2 linked regions of the Homo sapiens genome follow. The protein of the gene in region 1 purifies or fractionates together with the protein of each later gene. This does not show direct contact. Each region holds a gene or a part of one and is shown on either strand. Other genes may lie near its edges.

Evidence for each region. Proteins that work in one complex are often made in the same cells at the same time.
Region 2: the proteins of COL5A2 (region 1) and P4HA2 purify together in Homo sapiens (co-immunoprecipitation; one large-scale study listed by IntAct). This does not show direct contact.

What each region holds. Positions count from the first base shown.
Region 1 is NC_000002.12:189,057,762-189,061,261, forward strand, and holds part of COL5A2 (collagen alpha-2(V) chain preproprotein), read right to left. Parts: intron 3,023-3,500; coding exon 2,969-3,022; intron 1,133-2,968; coding exon 1,088-1,132; intron 767-1,087; coding exon 668-766; intron 1-667. UniProt on the Homo sapiens protein: Type V collagen is a member of group I collagen (fibrillar forming collagen). It is a minor connective tissue component of nearly ubiquitous distribution. Type V collagen binds to DNA, heparan sulfate, thrombospondin, heparin, and insulin.
Region 2 is NC_000005.10:132,193,354-132,196,853, reverse strand, and holds part of P4HA2 (prolyl 4-hydroxylase subunit alpha-2 isoform 2 precursor), read left to right. Parts: intron 1-1,373; coding exon 1,374-1,442; intron 1,443-1,831; coding exon 1,832-1,928; intron 1,929-3,500. UniProt on the Homo sapiens protein: Catalyzes the post-translational formation of 4-hydroxyproline in -Xaa-Pro-Gly- sequences in collagens and other proteins.

The DNA.
Region 1 (3,500 bases):
TATTTCATTCTCTCTTTAATGAAACTGATATTTGATATTAACCTGGTTTTCAGGCTAATATAGTGTCTAAATTGTAGTAGACTGCATCAATCACTCTAAACCCTGAAAATAATAAGGGGTCTCATGTCACATGACCATGAAAAATTCTACTTCAATTGTTTATACTGAAGTTGGCCACATTATTTTCTACCAATCACTAAATGGCACACATTTCTGCCTTATGATGCATTATATTTTCAGATTTTAAAAGTTCCATATTTTCACATATGTAGTAAGCAGAATTGTGAAACCTGAGACAAGGAAAATGGAGCATATTATTAGAAAAGCCTCCTAATAAATTATGTAATTTTCTATTTCTTTCCTCTGTTTATTCATAGAAGCCACTAATAAAATGTACATAAACATTAGAAATGTGTTTGTATATGGAAGTCTATCACCATGTGCACTAAACTACAATCCCCATCAAAGAAGAGAGTCTTCTTTTTAGCTGACACTTTAGTTGCAAGGAAAAAGCCTAGTAAGCGCTCATTAAATATTTGTGGAAGAAGAAAATGATATAATCAAATTATCTTTCAAAAACAAGACAAATGCATTCTCACACCATCATGCGTTTATTAAGCAGTAATTTTAAAGCATTTTAAAACACTGAGATCACTATGACACTTACTTTTGGGCCATCAGGACCATGTCCTCCAGCCATTCCCTTCTCACCAGGGAGTCCAGTTATCCCAGGTTCTCCTCTTTCCCCAGGATTTCCTCGTTCTCCCTAGCACAAAATTGGGATGTCAAATAATCTCAATACTTGATCTAAAAATAGGTCAAAATGTTTCTGAGAAATGGCTTCTACTGCGGAAAAATTCAGAAATGAGACATTACTAAATCTCAATTTTCTAATTTAGTGATAAGAAATAAATTTGAAGTAAGGATATGCTAGTTTCATAGCACAAAATATTTCTCATAAAATTAATTTTTATCCAGTCAAAGAATTTATAGGTTAAAATAAATCCCAGTTTAAGATTTTAAAAGACACCTTTTAAAACTGAAGCCAGTGGGAAACAACATTAATCATGAAGATTAAAATACTTACTCTAGGTCCTAACGGGCCAACTGCTCCGGGATCTCCAGGAACACCCTATAAACACATTTTTTTTTTTTAATGGAACAAGAGCTTTGAGTTTAGGCATTTATCAGAAAACTTTCCAGTTCATACACCTAGTTTCTATTAATGTGCCATTAGAAGGCTGCATAAGCCAACAATTTAAAGAAAGAAAAGTACGTATATTTTTATAAATGAGGGAATATTACATGTTTTAGATGAAAACATTTTTCCAAAAAACTTTGTATTATACCTGAATGTTTGATTTTTGGCAATGAGAACATGCAAAGTACTATTTCACAAAGATAGAGCATTAGTTTTTTAGAGGCAACAAAATACATGCTAAATGTCTTTTTTTAAACTAATGGAAGATGAAAAAGTTTAAATAAAGAAAAGTTATATAAAAAGGGCTAAAGAGTTGGTCTTTTAAATAGAACCAATCCAATTCTACTCAATTAAGTAAATCTTTCTTGAGCCTATAATATGGACAAAGCACTCTACTAGGTATTGTGCATTCAAACCAGTGCAGTCATGTCTAAATTAAAAGTTTGTTTGTTCTTACATAAAAGAAAGTTTGTCAATTTGAAATTTCTTTCTTTGATAAAGATAACTTTATCAAATAGGCCTCCAATCTTATTCTCCGAAATGGACTGTCCTCACTGTGGCCTGATCTCCCTAATCTTATCATATTACTCCTTCCTTAAAAACCCTTCTTTTTTCTTTTCTGGTTTTTTTTTTTTTTTTTTTTTTTTTTGAGACGTTGTCTCGCTCTATCACCCAGGCTGGAGTACAATGGTGGCATGATCTTGGCTCACTGCAACCTCCACCTCCTGGATTAAAGTGATTCTCCTGCCTCAGCCTCCCAAGTAGCTGGGAATACAGGCATGTGCCACCATGCCCAGGTAATTTTTGTATTTTTAGTACAGACGGTTGGCCAGGCTGGTCTCGAACTCCTGATGCCAAGTGATTCACCTGCCTCAGTCTCCCAAAGTGCTGGGATTACAGGTGTGAGCCACTGTGCCCAGCCTAAAAACTCTTCCTTAGCTTCCCATTACTCTAATGATGAAGAACAAATTAGAATCAAATTAAAGCCCTCCATAATCAGGCCCCTGAGTCACCCTGCAGCCCCCTTTCTATTTTCCCCAAATTACATTACCCACTCTGATTTGTAAGCTTGTCTCATTTCCTGGAGGTTTTTCCTATCTTCCCTCCTTCATCATTATCATCATTCATCTCTCAGATCTCATAAAAGATATTACTTTGTCTGGAAAACCTTTCCTAAAACCCCCAAGTCTTATTTAGGTGCATCTTTTTTGTTTCCATAAACATAGTACCTCCCTTATTATAGCATTTAGAGCATGCTATTATTGTAATTGTCCTATACTCTCTGAATCCTACTATACTGTAAGGACAGCAAGGTCCAAATCCATTTTGTTCAGCTGGTTCAGGCCAGTGCTTTGTAGAGGCAAGCACACAGAGTGTTCAGCAAATATTTATTAAATGATTAAATGAACAAATGAATCATTCAAAGAAAAATAAATAAATCTATGAGCCAGGAAAACGACAGAATAAAATTGTTAGTATTTGTCCATAACTGTTTATATAAAGTGGTTAAGAACACATCTTGGGAAGCAGATGACCTGGGTTCAAATCTATTAACTGTGTGACTTTGGGAAAGTTATCTAACATCTGTATGCCCCATTTTCCTCATCTACAAAATGGAGATAATGATAGTACCTAGTACATAGGGCTGCTTTGAGAACTCAAAGAGATAATGTATGTAAAGGAAAGCACAACAGAGCCTCACACATAAAAAGTGATAATTGAGCCAGCAATGTATAGTGTTGCCATTATTATTATTTAAACACTTACTTGATCACCTGGTTTTCCACCTTCTCCAGGAGGCCCTGGAGGACCAGGAAGCCCCTAAAACAAAAGTAAGAAAATAAAATTGTGAATCTGTGTAAGTTTAACAGGCTACCAGTGTTAACAGTTTACCTTTTACAATTCATGGGGTCTCCAAGACTATATTTTCAATGAAAATATATTGTTCAGACATTTTAAGTAAAAAATATTGTTCAGAAGCATTAAAAAAAGACTACCAATAAAACACAACAGCTAGTCAATTTATAGGATTGTATTTTCATCTGCACACCACTTAGCAAAAAAAGAGATAATGTAACAGGAGCTTCTTCATATTTATAGAGTTTTTATGGCTCTGTGAACAATATTTTAGACTGCTAGAATATTATTTAAAGTCAGTCCAGAAAGTTTTTTTTACAAATTATGATCTTCCTCCTATTAAATAATGTACATACTGATATATGTAGATAAATTATGAAACTTTGTTCAATAAAAAATTCTAGTCACTGTGCCGATAAAACAAAATCAGCCTTAAAATGGT
Region 2 (3,500 bases), on another chromosome or scaffold:
ACTCTCCCTCTGTTGCCCAGGCTGGAGTGCAGTGGCGCTATCTCAGCTTACTGCAAACTCTGCCTCCCAGGTTCAAGCGATTCTCCTGCCTCAGCCTCCCAAGTAGCTGGGATTATAGGCGTGCACCACCATGCCCAGCTAATTTTTGTATTTTTAGTAGAGATGAGGTTTCACCATCTTGGCCAGACTGGTCTCAAGCTCCTGACCTCAAGTGATCCACCCGCCTTGGCCTCCCAAAGTGCTGGCATTACAGGCGTGAGCCACCATGCCCAGCCTAAACATCAGAGAGATTATTATGTAGTTATGGAGACAGGTGCTGTGAACCCCAGGCTTGGGGTTCAGTGGAGGCCTCTCTTTGGAAGTAACATATCAGTTGAGACTTAAAAGTTGAGTGGAAATTAGCTGGTAGAACATGGTTTCTGGCAGAAGAGAGAGTGTATGTAGTCCTGTAAGAGAAAAGGAACTTGGGATGTTGGAAAGGTAGAAAAAGGCTGGTGTGTCTGGAGAGAGGCTAGTGAGACTGACAGGGCCTTGGGGTTCTAGAAAAGAATCTGAGTTTGATCCACAGGGCTGTGAGAAGCCATCAGAGCTTTTGTCTTATTCATTTACCATATGTCTGTCAAGTACCCTTCAGTGAGTCTGGTATGTGTCCTGTGGAAATATTTTTTACCTCCAATTTTTATTAAATTATGGACAAAAAAAGTAAGAGAGCCAGATGGGAAAGAAGTAGTGCTTTGGCCATGAGTCAAGGCATGCTCTGTGGGCATGAGTACAGCCTTGCTAGTGTGGAACTTGTGTTCAATGTAGTTTAAGGCCTTACCATAGGAGAAAGCAGGGCCTCTAGAGACACAGTGCCCCACCCTTCCACTCAGTTGGCCCCAGGAAGGGTGGCTACTCTGGGAAGGTGAAGGTCTGACTAGAGCAGCAAACTACTAGAGCCAGAGAAACAGAGCTGCAGTGGGGACTGCACATGGTGTTGGAAACAGTACAGAGCTCCTGGTCAGGGCACTTTGCAGAGTACAGTGGCTTAGGCAAGGCCAAGGCTAGATGGGGATTCAAAGGGTGGGGTCAGAACAGGCATTTTCTGAGTACAGACTCAGATTATTTTCATCCAGGGACAGCCCGGATGTGGGTCTCCTGTGGGCCTCAACTCTTGAACACTCATGACATGGAGACTGTTCTAATGAATCACACTGGTTAAGTAGGCATGGGAAGAGCCTTTCTTGGCTAAAGGGCTGGCCATGGAGCAGACACCAAGTAGTGTCACTCATGCTGAGAGGAGGGCAATCTATATACCTTGTCATGTCCTTTGTGGCTCAATTGCTCTGAGAGCCTTGGGTAGGAGGGTCAAGCTCTATGTCTTATATTTCCAGATGAGTGATGTAGAAGCTGGTGGTGCCACCGTCTTCCCTGATCTGGGGGCTGCAATTTGGCCTAAGAAGGTAAGTTCTGATTCTTGTGGGTCAGAGGTTGAAGCAAGGCTCAGACTTTACTTTGTCCATGTCCCCCAGTACCATTACCTGGCCTGCCTGATTGTCACTGTGATGTGCCTTAGCCCACCTGGGGTCTGACCTGGTAGCCCAGCTTCTCCCTGTGAAGAAAGGACAGGGAGGGAAGTCCCTTCAGGGGCGGGTGAGTTCCCAGACTTCTACCTCAGAAAGGTAGGTGCTTTCTGGGAAATGTCTCTGTTGCTGGAGTCCCAGAGCCCTATCCCCTGTCCATGGGAAAATGAGGGTGTTTCTGCTCAGGGCAGAGCTTCTGTGATGCTTGCAGTCAGGTCCCTGAGCACAGTCTCTTAAGAATGTGTTCTGAAAGGCCATCTCTTTCCCAGGGTACAGCTGTGTTCTGGTACAACCTCTTGCGGAGCGGGGAAGGTGACTACCGAACAAGACATGCTGCCTGCCCTGTGCTTGTGGGCTGCAAGTGGGGTGAGTGTCTTAAGGGGTAGTGTTGGTGTTGGTGGCCTCAGCTTGGGCTTTGCTTATTGGCCTTAGATTCTGAGCTGGGAGGCAACTGCTGCCAAATTTGCTGAGACTGTCTCCCTTCTTAGGTTTTTTTCTGCTGTTATTACCATCCAGCCATGTAATGTCCATGCAGCTGGTAAATGCCAAGGCAGCTGGTTGGAAACACTCAGAGATACACAGGAAGCTGAAGAAGGCCTGAGGACGAATAGCTGCATAAGCACCATAGGTCCAGGACCCTCTGGCAAGGCTTCTGAGGGAGCAGAGTGGAGAGCTGGAAGCAGTGAGGGGAAAGAGTGTCTCAGGCAAACAAGGCCCATATGGATGGAGGCACAGGCTAAAACCAGCATACGGGTGTGGGGGCTGGCTCCCTTGTCACTTGAAGAAAGGGAGGCCTGTGGCACAGGGGCCAGAAGATGAGGCTGGAGGCTGGGACCAAACTGCAGAGGCTCAAGCTTGAGCCTTATCCTGGGAGCAGTTGTGGTGAGCCTCGGAGAGGCTCAAACCAGGATATGACAGGAAGTGTTTGTAAGGAGATGAGTGTGTAGCCCCCTTGGAGAGTTTTGAAGATAAATAGTGATAGGTTTGCAGATAATTAAGCAAATGGAAAAGAAAACAAGGCAGTTGCTGAATTCAGGGGAAAAAAAGTTGTACAAGAAAGGAAATGTAAGTATAATCTACTAGATGGCTCAGGTGTAACACATGATATAATTATGTACACACTGAGTATTACTTTAACTAAAACTTATGATTTACCTGTACTGGAAAGGTGGGAGGGGATGAGTTTGTGTTTTAGGGGTAGAATAAAAGAATTCCAAAGTTGAAAGTCAAGGAATAGAACTATAAGCATCTTATCTAGAAAAATGAGGTTAAATATCAGAAGAAACAGCTAGAGGAGTTTAATGTTCCCTGGGAGTGGAGATTAGGGATGGGAAGGAGAGGCTTAGGAGGAGTGCTATTTATCATTATAAGCCTTGCGACAATTTTATTTTTTTCAATGAAGTACATGTTATTACTTTATATTTTAAAAGCTCTGTGACTTCAGTAGTGCATTGAAATAAAATTTTTATTCATTATGAGAGAGTCTGTGAGGAACAGAATCATGGTTCCTGTGTGTTTGAAGATATGGCGTGGGGTGATAGTGCTGGCAGCAGCTCTGTTGCTCTTGTGCCCATGGCATACAGACTGGATCTGCTGGTCCACGGCTCCTGAGGTTAATGTCCAAGCCCTCTGCAATGCTGACAGTCTTCCTCATCCTCACACCCTACCTCTCAGTTTCTACCTGCCACCTCCCAGTAATATTAGGCCTCTTGAGTCCCCAACACACGTCAGGGTGGCTTCTGCCTTGATTACTTTCTCATCCTGTTGTCACTCCTGGGACCCTCTTGGTGAGAGAACCATCTGGGTATGCCCATCTTCTTCCCAGGATAACTTCTATGTAGCTTTATATTCTAGCCCTAGGATTTCCTCTTCCCTCTAAGAGCAAGAAACATGTGTGCAGGTTGCCATGGGAATAGAGCCAAAGGGCATCAAAGGTCA